Linked DNA regions of Homo sapiens. The protein of the gene in region 1 purifies or fractionates together with the protein of each later gene. This does not show direct contact. Each region holds a gene or a part of one and is shown on either strand. Other genes may lie near its edges.

Region 1 (5,288 bases):
GAAATACTGACTGCAGAAATACTCCTCCCGCAGCTGTGCGCTCTCCGTTTCTGCAGAACCTCACGCACTTCCTTCTCCTCATCCATCTTAGAGAGTAAAAAAACCCGCATATGTCCTCAAAGGGAGCTGGGGTGTGGATTCTAAGTCGTAGGGGGATATAGGATTTTAACGAGAATTGGTGAGAACATGAGGTCCCAGAGCCACTGGCTCCAGCTATGCAGAGTCCCTCTCGGGGACTCCCTGGGGCAGGATCACTTCGGATTCTCGGATTCCTTGCCCGGAATGTTCCGCGACCAGGGACTCGGCTAAGGGAATTTGCCTTAAAACAAAGAGAGGAGGGCCCTCTGAGAGAAGTCTGCACCATCCCGCAGAATGGAAATTTGTCCCTAACGAATCGTTATCAATCCAAGCGCAGTGAAGGACGGATTTCTTGTGCTTATGGAGGGAGTGGTTTCTGCCCTCCCGGCTGTTGGCCAGGACAGCGAAATGGTGAGGGATGGAGGTGGGGCTGGATCCCAGGTGAGAAGGAGGCGCTGCAGGGGTTGGGACCCATGGTGCAGTCCAAGGAGAGCGCTCTCCTTCCCTTCCGGCTTAGCTCTCTGAGCTCCGCGACGCTTGTGCGCCACGCCGGAGCGGGACAATCGTTAGCGCGCACCTGGCTGGCATGCAAGGCGGGCTCTCAGCGGAGCTGAGGGTTCCGAGAGGCACTGGCTGAGCTGTAAGGCGAGGAGCCGGCTCGGACCCTGCAACTGGATCCCCAACCCTTCCCAGAAGGGAGGCCCAATCCGGGTTGGCGCCTGTCTACTCCAGAGCGAAGGCCTCTGGGCTCAGAGCCACGGGCATTTCTAAGAAAAAAAAAAGTTTATTTAAAATTTTGTACATAAATAAATAAATAAATATCTTCTGGCATTGCAGAGGCCGTACAATTACACAGCTAGGCTGGGGCGGGCCAGAGTCTGGAGGGGGAAGAGTGGGGTCGCCAGCGGCGCAGAGCGGGGTCCTATGTTTAGAGGAAGGAAGAGCGTGTTGGAAACAGAGCAAATCTGTTTCCCCAATATGGATACTACGGGCGAAATTTATCATCTGTGAGAGGAGCCGTGGGGACTGAGGACAGCAAGGCCAGATCAAGGGACAAATGGACTGACTGAAGGAGGAGGCTCCCTGAGGAGGGGAAGGGAAAAGGAGAAGGAAAAAAAAAGTGGGGGTTCATAAATGTGTGTGTTGGCGGGCGGGGGCCGAGTGAATAAATGATCACAGGAAAGAGGTGGGGAGGGACAAAAAGACATTTTAAAAAGAGAAGCGAACGAGCATCCAAGGCCGCCGACCTTGACCGAGAGCGGAGGAGAGTAGAGTAAGCGAGGAAGCCCAAGCCAGCCCAGAGAGGGCGGGCTAGGAGGCGCCGGCTGCCAGCAAGGCGCTGCGCCAAGCAGGCTTGCGGGCGGGGGCCGCGGTGCTGCACTGCCCAGGAGGACTCGAGCGCTTACAGTGTTCACAGCTTGGAGTTGGCTTTGGACACGAGCGAGCCCTGGGGCGGGGACGCCATGGTCCAGTCTCTGCCAAGCTCTCAGCCCTGCCCAGGCCCGGGACCTCTGCAAAGCAGTGCCAAATCCATGCCAGGCAGTGGTTTGGCTGCGGGTGCCTGGGAATCAGCGCTGAGTCCCAGGACTAGTCTCCGAGGCGCAGGGAGGTCTTGGGGTGGGCGACCTAGGGAGACACGCGCCTAGGGAGTGACCGTAAGATCCCGGTCGTCCTTCCCTGAGGAGGACGGAGACATGGGCAATTCGTCGTCATCCTCGGAGCACTTGGCTGAGGAGAGCGATGCGCACTTGCAGCCTTGCGGTGCGCTCCCGCCACCACCGGCACCCCCGCCGCCGCCGCCACGATGGTTGCTGCCCTTGCCCTCCTTCTTGTGCTTCACTCGGCGGTTCTGAAACCAGATCTTCACCTGCTTCTCGGACAGATTCAGGTAGGTCGCGATCTCGATGCGACGTAGGCGGGACAGGTACATATTAGAAGCGAACTCGCGCTCCAGCTCTAGCAGCTGCGTGCTGGTGAAAGCCGTGCGCATCCTCTTGCTGCTGGGCAGCTGGTTAGAGCTGCTGTCTGGAGGTGGCAGAGCAGAGAAGGAAGCGATCAGACCTCTGTGCTGTGGACCCAATCCCTTGGTAGGCGGTCGCCAGAATCCTACGACTTTGACCTCTTACCCATCTCTTCGCCCCAACACAATCCACAGCAGAGCTACAGTGAGCGCTCCTTGTCCAGCTCCGAGATCCTGATTCTCCCGGAGTCATGCAGCCCTGGAACCCCTTCCCCTTCATGGAGAGCCTTGGATCCCAGCCCTCACTTACCCCGGCCCACACTCCAGGACCTGGACGTCTGCCCTCATCCGCCTCCTGGCGTTGTGTCCCGGCCCTCTATCCTCACTCCACCCCAAGCGCCCCCCTTAGTCCCCGACATGACCCTCACCGCCCCCAGAAAGCCCAGGGTCCCTCTTCCTCCATCTCTGGCTCTCCATCCTGCTTCGGATCACCTCTGCCCGGTCCCTCTGCGCGGCGGCCCCGCTTACCCACAGAGATGCAGTGGAACTGCCTGGGGTCAGGCAGCGGGTAGGAGGTCTGGTAGAGCGCGGCGGCAGCAGCAGCGGCGGCCGGGCCGTGAGCGACCCCGGGCGACACAGCAGAGTGCTGGCGGCCCAGGGGCGCGTGGCAGTACTGCGAGCCGAAGGGTGGGAAGGAAGCCTTGAGTAGAGGCAGCGCGGGCGGCCCGGGGGGCCCATGCAGCTGCGAGGCGGTGACGCAGAGCGGGCACACGCACAGCAGCCCAGCCTTGCGCGCGTGGCAGGCGCCAGGCGAGAGACCGTGCAGCGCGTGCGGCGGGGGCACAGCGTAGGGGAAGAGCGGCGGCGGGCTGCCCTCGGGCGCCTTCTTCTCGCCCGCCTCGCGCAGCACTAGCGAGTCCACCAGGAAGGAGCGCGGCATGGCCCCGGCGCGCGGTCGCCCCGCAGCCAGCCCGCCCTCTGCGCCCACCGCACCTTTCGGCTCTCCACGCGCTTTCCCTGGCCGCGGTATCCCGCAGCTGCCTCTGCCCAGGAGGCTGAACGCGCGGCTGAGACCTAGGCTGAAACAGTAGCCTCTGCTGCCGTGGGCACCGCCCAAAGAGCGCGGGGTGCTGGCCAGCGCTAGTGGTGCTGAAAGGCGCCGGCGGCGCGGCTTAAATAGGACTATTGCCATGTGATGGACTACGCCAGGAGCGGCCGGGGCCTCTCAATAGGGTTTTTGTGCCTTTTCTCTTGGCATTCACTCTGCACGCTTCCTCATTATTTCACTTGTTAACTAAATGAACTGCATAATGTACTCTATTCTTGTCAACCCCACCCACGCCGTAACAGGCGCCCTCGCCCCCTCCTCTCCCTTTTGCGGGTTTATTTTCTCATTCTCCCGCGATTTAATATTCTTTCCTTTCTCTTTATTTCTTACTCCCCTTTGGCTTTGCATTGGCCATCAGCCCGTTCACCTTACTGATTTTGCACCCCCGCGGCCTCTCTTCTACAGATCCCCATGGGCGCACACCCTCATATCCTCTGTCCACTTGGTCCTGGTCCCCTTCTTTCTATTATCGCCCTTACACCCCAAAAGTATGCTGTCTCCAGTCAGCCCTGTCAGCTCAGTGCCGTGCACCCCCGAACCTCCCTCCAGCCGGTCTCAGATTTTCCACCTGTGGAATCGCTTCTCTCTCTGCGTCGGAAGAAGGAGGACCGGGTTCCCGCGTGAAGGAGGCGTCTGTGGGGAGGGAGGAGAAGGGCTCATTATTCCTTATCCAGCCCTAGACCCATCGCTGTCCCTCGGTTTTCTCTAAGTTTCTCAAATAGTCTTAATTTTGGTGCTGCCTACGACGCCCAGTCTTTGTTCGGTAGATGCTGGCCAACCAGCCCTTTCCTTCAAATGACAGGGCCGTGGATGTAAAAGAGGAAAAACAGTCTCTGAGCGTTACGAACAGAGACAGGGAATGGGGAATGAAAGCCGAGATGGCGCAGATCTAGATCTCGCACCCCAGCACATGTGGCGAGTGCGGACTGTCTGCCCGCGCATCTTGCCCACACCCTGTCTACTGGAGCACACTTCCAGCAGTGCGCTGGGAAACCGCTGCCATCTCTTAGTTTGGAACGGCGCGAAGGGCGGTTGTATTCCTGGCATCGGCTGCCTTTGCCCACCCTGACCCGCCTCCGCTCTCCCCAAGACCCGGCTTCTTCTTCCTGCCGCGTCACTCTTCTTTCTGGTCACACAATGGTTAAACAACTTCAAACGCTCAGAGCTGTGTACACAGCTCCAGCTTTTTAAATCGTTCTCGGGCTCAAAGCTGTTTCGCCCAGGAGCTTTTTCCATACAATGGGAAATCAGCATAAACATTTCTAATTTACAGCCCGGGACTTTTCACAGGAGACGTTTACTTTCGATTTTATTGGAACCAAATCGCTGCAGTCACCTGCTCTGAGCCCTGAATGGAATTGTGAGAAATGGAGGGGGAAGCTTAGGGGTCTGGGGAAGCAGTGCGCAGGAATAAGATTGCCCAAACCCGAAGCATCTGCATGGGCTTTTATCCTTGGCAACATCTTTGCAATAACAACAGCAACAGATTATAACTGATTAAAAAGCAAAGATAATTTGTTTTGCGAGATAATAACTGCTTCTGTAAAAGGGAATAGGACAATGGGAGAAGTAACCTGCATGGAGGGCATGGCATCTAGCAGGAGTAAGGGTTCAATGTTTTCTTGGTTGCTTGGCATGGAGTGGGGGGCAAGGCTGCCCTCTGAGACAGAGTCTCAGCGCCAAGGCTCCCCCACTCTAGGGTGGTGCCTGCAAACCAGCCGGAACGCATCAATGCAGCCTAATTCCCGTTCTAATTGCTCTCTGGGAAATTTGAGCTGGGCTGGGTCGCTGAGAGGAAGCGAAGAGCGAGACCCGGGCGGGGAGAGGGGCTTTCCGCTGGGCAGAGGCAGGCTGGAGGGGCGCAAGGGCGGGCGGGGCCCAGGGGTGCAAGGGGCGGGCACTGCACCCGGAGCTGGGAGCCCGCGAGTGGCCAGCGTGGAGCTCCACTGGCAGCCGCCCCGCGTGCCCGGGGAGGAAGGGGTTAAGAGCCCCTGAATGCGAGCAAGGCCAAAGCTACTGGGAAAGAATATGGGGGTGGGGGTGGGGGTGGGGGGAATAACCAGGTTTTTTTTTTTTTCCTCTCTCCAGCCTCTGGACCTTATTGAATGTCATTGAAGAAAGTTTTGAATGCCAGATAAAGAG
Region 2 (4,354 bases), on another chromosome or scaffold:
CGGGCTCAGGCAATCCTCCTGCCCCAGCCTCACAAGTAGCTGGGACCACAGGCGCATGCCACACTGCCTGGCTAATTTTTTCTTTTTTTGTGACAGAGTCTCACTCTGTCACCGAGGCTGGAGTGCAATGGTGCGATCTTGGCTCACTGCAACCTCTGCCTCCTGGGTTCAAGTGGTTCTCTTACCTCAGCCTCATGAGTAGCTGGGATTACAGGCAACCGCCACCATGCCTGGATAATTTTTGTATTTTTAGTAGAGACGGGGTTTCACTATGTTGGCCAGGCTGGTTTCGAACTCCTGATCTCAGGTGATCCACCTGCCTCGGCCTCTCAAAGTGCTGGAATTACAGGCGTGAGCCACCGCGCCTGGCCTAATTTTTAAGTTACTTGTAGAGATGTGGTCTCTCTGTGTTTCCCAAGCTGGTCTCAAACTCTAGGCCTCAAGTGATCCTCCTGCATTGGCCTTCCAAAGTGTTGGGATTACAGTCATGAGCCACTGTGCCCAGCCAGACGTTTCCTTTTTCATCTTTTTTACTGGAAACTTCAGGTTCTCTCCTGAAGGGACAGCATTCCTTATATCCTTGTCAAGCAGTGATTGTGGTTTTTTTTTTTTTTTTCCTAAATTCAACTTCCTCTGGGCCTGGAAATGGAGGAAGTGACCTCTCTGCTTTCCATTATCTCTAGATTTTAGTTTCTTCTTCTTTCTAAGACTTCCCAGCGCCTTGGAAGATCATCTGCCACCTGCCATTCTTCTTATTGCGCTCCTTACAGCTCTTCAGCTCCTGGCTCACTGTTTTCTTCTCATCACTGCTTCTGTTGTTATTCTCAGTGGCTTCAGCATCCGCACAGACAATTCATCCAACATCTGGGCCTTTCAATTTTCTCAACTCCTCATTTCCAAAAAGATTTGTCTTCTTACATCTCAGCATCCCACTCCTCTGTTCATGCTTTAGACTGTGTCATTAACAAAATAACGCACAACTTCCAAAATCTTGATTTCAAGTTTCCCTTTATCTGCTGACCTCCTCCTGTCATTCCAGTTCTGTTCCCCTCTCTAGCTTCTCCACTTCAGCACTTCCCTGACTCCTCAGGTACCTTCAGTCTCTCGACCCTCTCACTTTTGCATCTTCCATCAACATCCCTCGGGTCCTCATTGCCCTTCCTCCTCACCTCAGGTTCTAAGGCTTCTAATTGTAATCACTGCCTTAACCCCGTTGATTCTGTCTCTCTCTGTTCTCAACCCAGTTAATCCACCATTTCACCTATAGTAACTTGCCAGTTAAATCCACTGTTCTGCACCTGCACTTGGATAGCTGAATCTGGCTGGAGAAAAATGCATAGCTTTGTTGACTTGTCTCACTTTAAATCTATAACCACAGACCCCAAAAGGGACCCTTGGCAATACCTGGCGGTTCTGTGTTTCCCTGGTTGATTCATTTACCAGTTCTTTCAGATAATTATTTCACAATTTGTCTTCTCTCCTCAAAGCTCAGTACATCTTTCCACGTTCTCCCTTTTCCTGAGAAGTTTACTCACTGAGAAGTTCAGGACTTCGAGACCAGCCTGGCCAACATAGTGAAACCCCATCTCTACTAAAAATATATTTAAAAAATTAGCTGGGCATGGTTGTGTGCGCCTGTAATCCCAGCTACTTGGGAGGCTGAAGCAGGAAAATTGCTTGAACCCAGGAGGCAGAGGTTGCAGGGAGCTGAGATTGCACCACTGCACTCCAGCCTGGGCAACAGAGGGAGACTGTCTCAAAGGAAAAAAAAAAAAAAGGAAACGAAAATAGGAGCAATCAGGAAACTTGTATGTGCTCCCTCCCCGAAATCAGCAGTCTTCTGTTATGCAAATGATACGTCACTGCCCCTAAGGCCAACCCTTCACTGGTGCCCTGGATCCCATCCCCTCTCACCCACTGCACTCCAGTCTGGGTGACCGACAGAGCGAGACTCCGTCTCAAAAAAAAAGACTTTCCTCTTGAAATTACTCCTCTCTTTCTTGTGTCCTCAAATTTTCCTTCTCCACTGTATCGTTCTTACCAGCTTACAACTGATACCTCTTTTTTTTTTTTTGAGACAGAGTCTCACTTTGTTGCCCAGGCTAGAGTGCAATGGCGTGATTACAGTTCACTGCAGCCTCTACCTCCTACGCTCAAGTGATCCTTCCACCTCAGCCTTCTGAGTAGCTGGGACTACAGGCATGTGCCACCATGTCTGGCTAATTTTTTAATTTTTTTGTAGAGACAGGGCCTCTGTACGTGTGCGTGCATGTAATTAGGTAAGCAAAGATACTGTGTGCCAGTGGGAGTATGGGCTTGTATCAGATGATGCTGTTGGGTTCTTGTGTATGTTCTGTGCTTTTCTGGTCTAATTTCCCCAAGACAGGACTGGACCCAGAGCTGGCTTCCAGGAGATTCACAGACCATCACAGCTGGAAGGAGGCCAAGAGAAAACACAGTCCCCATTCCTCACTTCACATATATGGAAACTGAGGCCTAATTTTTAAATGTTTTTGTAGAGGCAGGGCCTCATTATATTGCCCATGCTGGTCTTGAACTCCTAGGCTTAAGTGATCCTCCTGCCCTGGCCTCCCAAAGTGTTGGGATTACAGGCATGAGCCACTATGCCCAGCCCAATCCTTTATTGATGGAAATTTTTCTTATGTCCATTTCTTCCTTCTTGCAAATATCTGTTTGTATACCTACATACTGGTGGAAAAATAACAACATAAGGTAAATGTTTGGCAGTAGAAATATTAGGTTAAGTGGCATGTTCATTTTTAATTTGTTTTTGAGAAAGGATCTTGCTCTTTCACCCAGGCTGGAGTGCAGTGGCATGATCTCGGGTCACTGCAACCTCTGCCTCCCAGGTTCAAGCGATTTTCCTGGCTCAGCCTCCCTGAGTAGCTGGGACTACAGGCTTGTGCCACCACGCCTGGCTAATTTTTGTATTTTTAGTAGAGACGAGGTTTCGCCATGTTGGCCAGGCTGGTCTCGCACTCCTGACTTCAGATGATCTGCCTGCCTCGGCCTCCCAAAGTGCTGGGATTACAGGGGTGAGCCACCGAGACCAGCTTTCATTTTTAATTTTTGTGATTACCAATTTGCCTCCTAAAAAAGTTGTACCAGTTTATATGGCTACCCACACTTCATGCGATGCCTGTGTACTTGTCCAAACTGGGTGTTATTGAGCTTTTACTTTTTGCTAATCTATGATGTGAAAATGATATCTTTTTCTGATTTACGCTTATATAATTCTGAGTGAAATGGAACTTCAATTTTTTTTTTTTTTAATTTTTTTGAGACGAGGTCTCACTCTGTCACCCAGGCTGGGCTGGAGTGCAGTGGTGTGATCTCGGCTCACTGCAACCTCCACCTCTTGGGTTCGAGCGATTCTTGAACCGTGCATCACCATGCCTGGCTGATTTTTGCATTTTTAGTAGAGATGGGGTTTCTTTCTTTCTTTCTTTCTTTTTTTTTTTGAGCAGCAGCAAGATTTATTGCAAAGAGCGAAAGAACAAAGCTTCCACAGTGTGAGAGACCCGAGCGGGTTGCCCGAGATGGGGTTTCATCACGTTGGCCAGGCTGGTCTTGAACGCCTGACCTCGAGTTATCCACCCGCCTTGGCCTCCCAAAGTTCTGGGATTACAGGCATGAGCCACCATGCCCAGCCAGTAACATTTTATAATGTTAAAAAGAATCCTGTAGGCCGGGCGTGGTGGCTCATGCCTGTAATCCCAGACCTTTTGGAGGCTGAGGTGGGTGGATCACCTGAGGTCAGGAGTTTGAGACTAGCCTGGCAAACATGGTGAAACCCCATCTCTACTAAAAATAGAAAAATTAGCAAGGCGTGGTGGTGGGTGCCTATAATCCCAGCTCCTCGGGAGGCTGAGGCAGGAGAATTGCTTGAACCCAGAAGGTGGGGGTTGCAGTGAGCTGAGATCATACTACTGCACGCCAGCCTGGGCGACAGAGTAAGACTCCATCTCAAAAAAAAAAAAAAATCCTGTAGATAGTTTAATTGGGATCATATAAAAGATATATTTTAGGGAAAATCAACATTTTTAGCTGATTGAGCCTTTCTCTTTAAGAAAAATATATGTTTATTCCATTTTCTATTTATTCAAGGTTTTTTTTAATATCCCTGTGGTATAATATGAAATATATAGTTGTCATTTTGTATCCATGGGAATTGTTCCCAGAACCCCCTTGGATGCCAAAATCCTTGGATGCTCAATTACCTTTTTTTGTCCTTTTCTTGTAGAGATGGGTGTCTCACAATGTTGCCCTGGCTGGTCTTGAACTCCTGGGCTCAAGCGATCCTCTCACCTTGGCCTCCCCAAAGTGCTGAGAT

The links.
Region 2: the proteins of GSX1 (region 1) and S100A13 purify together in Homo sapiens (affinity purification with mass spectrometry; one large-scale study listed by BioGRID and IntAct). This does not show direct contact.

Annotation. Positions count from the first base shown.
Region 1 is NC_000013.11:27,790,381-27,795,668, reverse strand, and holds GSX1 (GS homeobox 1), read right to left. Parts: upstream 3,187-5,288; 5' UTR 2,979-3,186; coding exon 2,567-2,978; intron 2,104-2,566; coding exon 1,721-2,103; 3' UTR 901-1,720; downstream 1-900. UniProt on the Homo sapiens protein: Probable transcription factor that binds to the DNA sequence 5'-GC[TA][AC]ATTA[GA]-3'. Activates the transcription of the GHRH gene. Plays an important role in pituitary development.
Region 2 is NC_000001.11:153,620,810-153,625,163, reverse strand, and holds part of S100A13 (protein S100-A13), read left to right. Parts: intron 1-4,354. UniProt on the Homo sapiens protein: Plays a role in the export of proteins that lack a signal peptide and are secreted by an alternative pathway. Binds two calcium ions per subunit. Binds one copper ion. Binding of one copper ion does not interfere with calcium binding.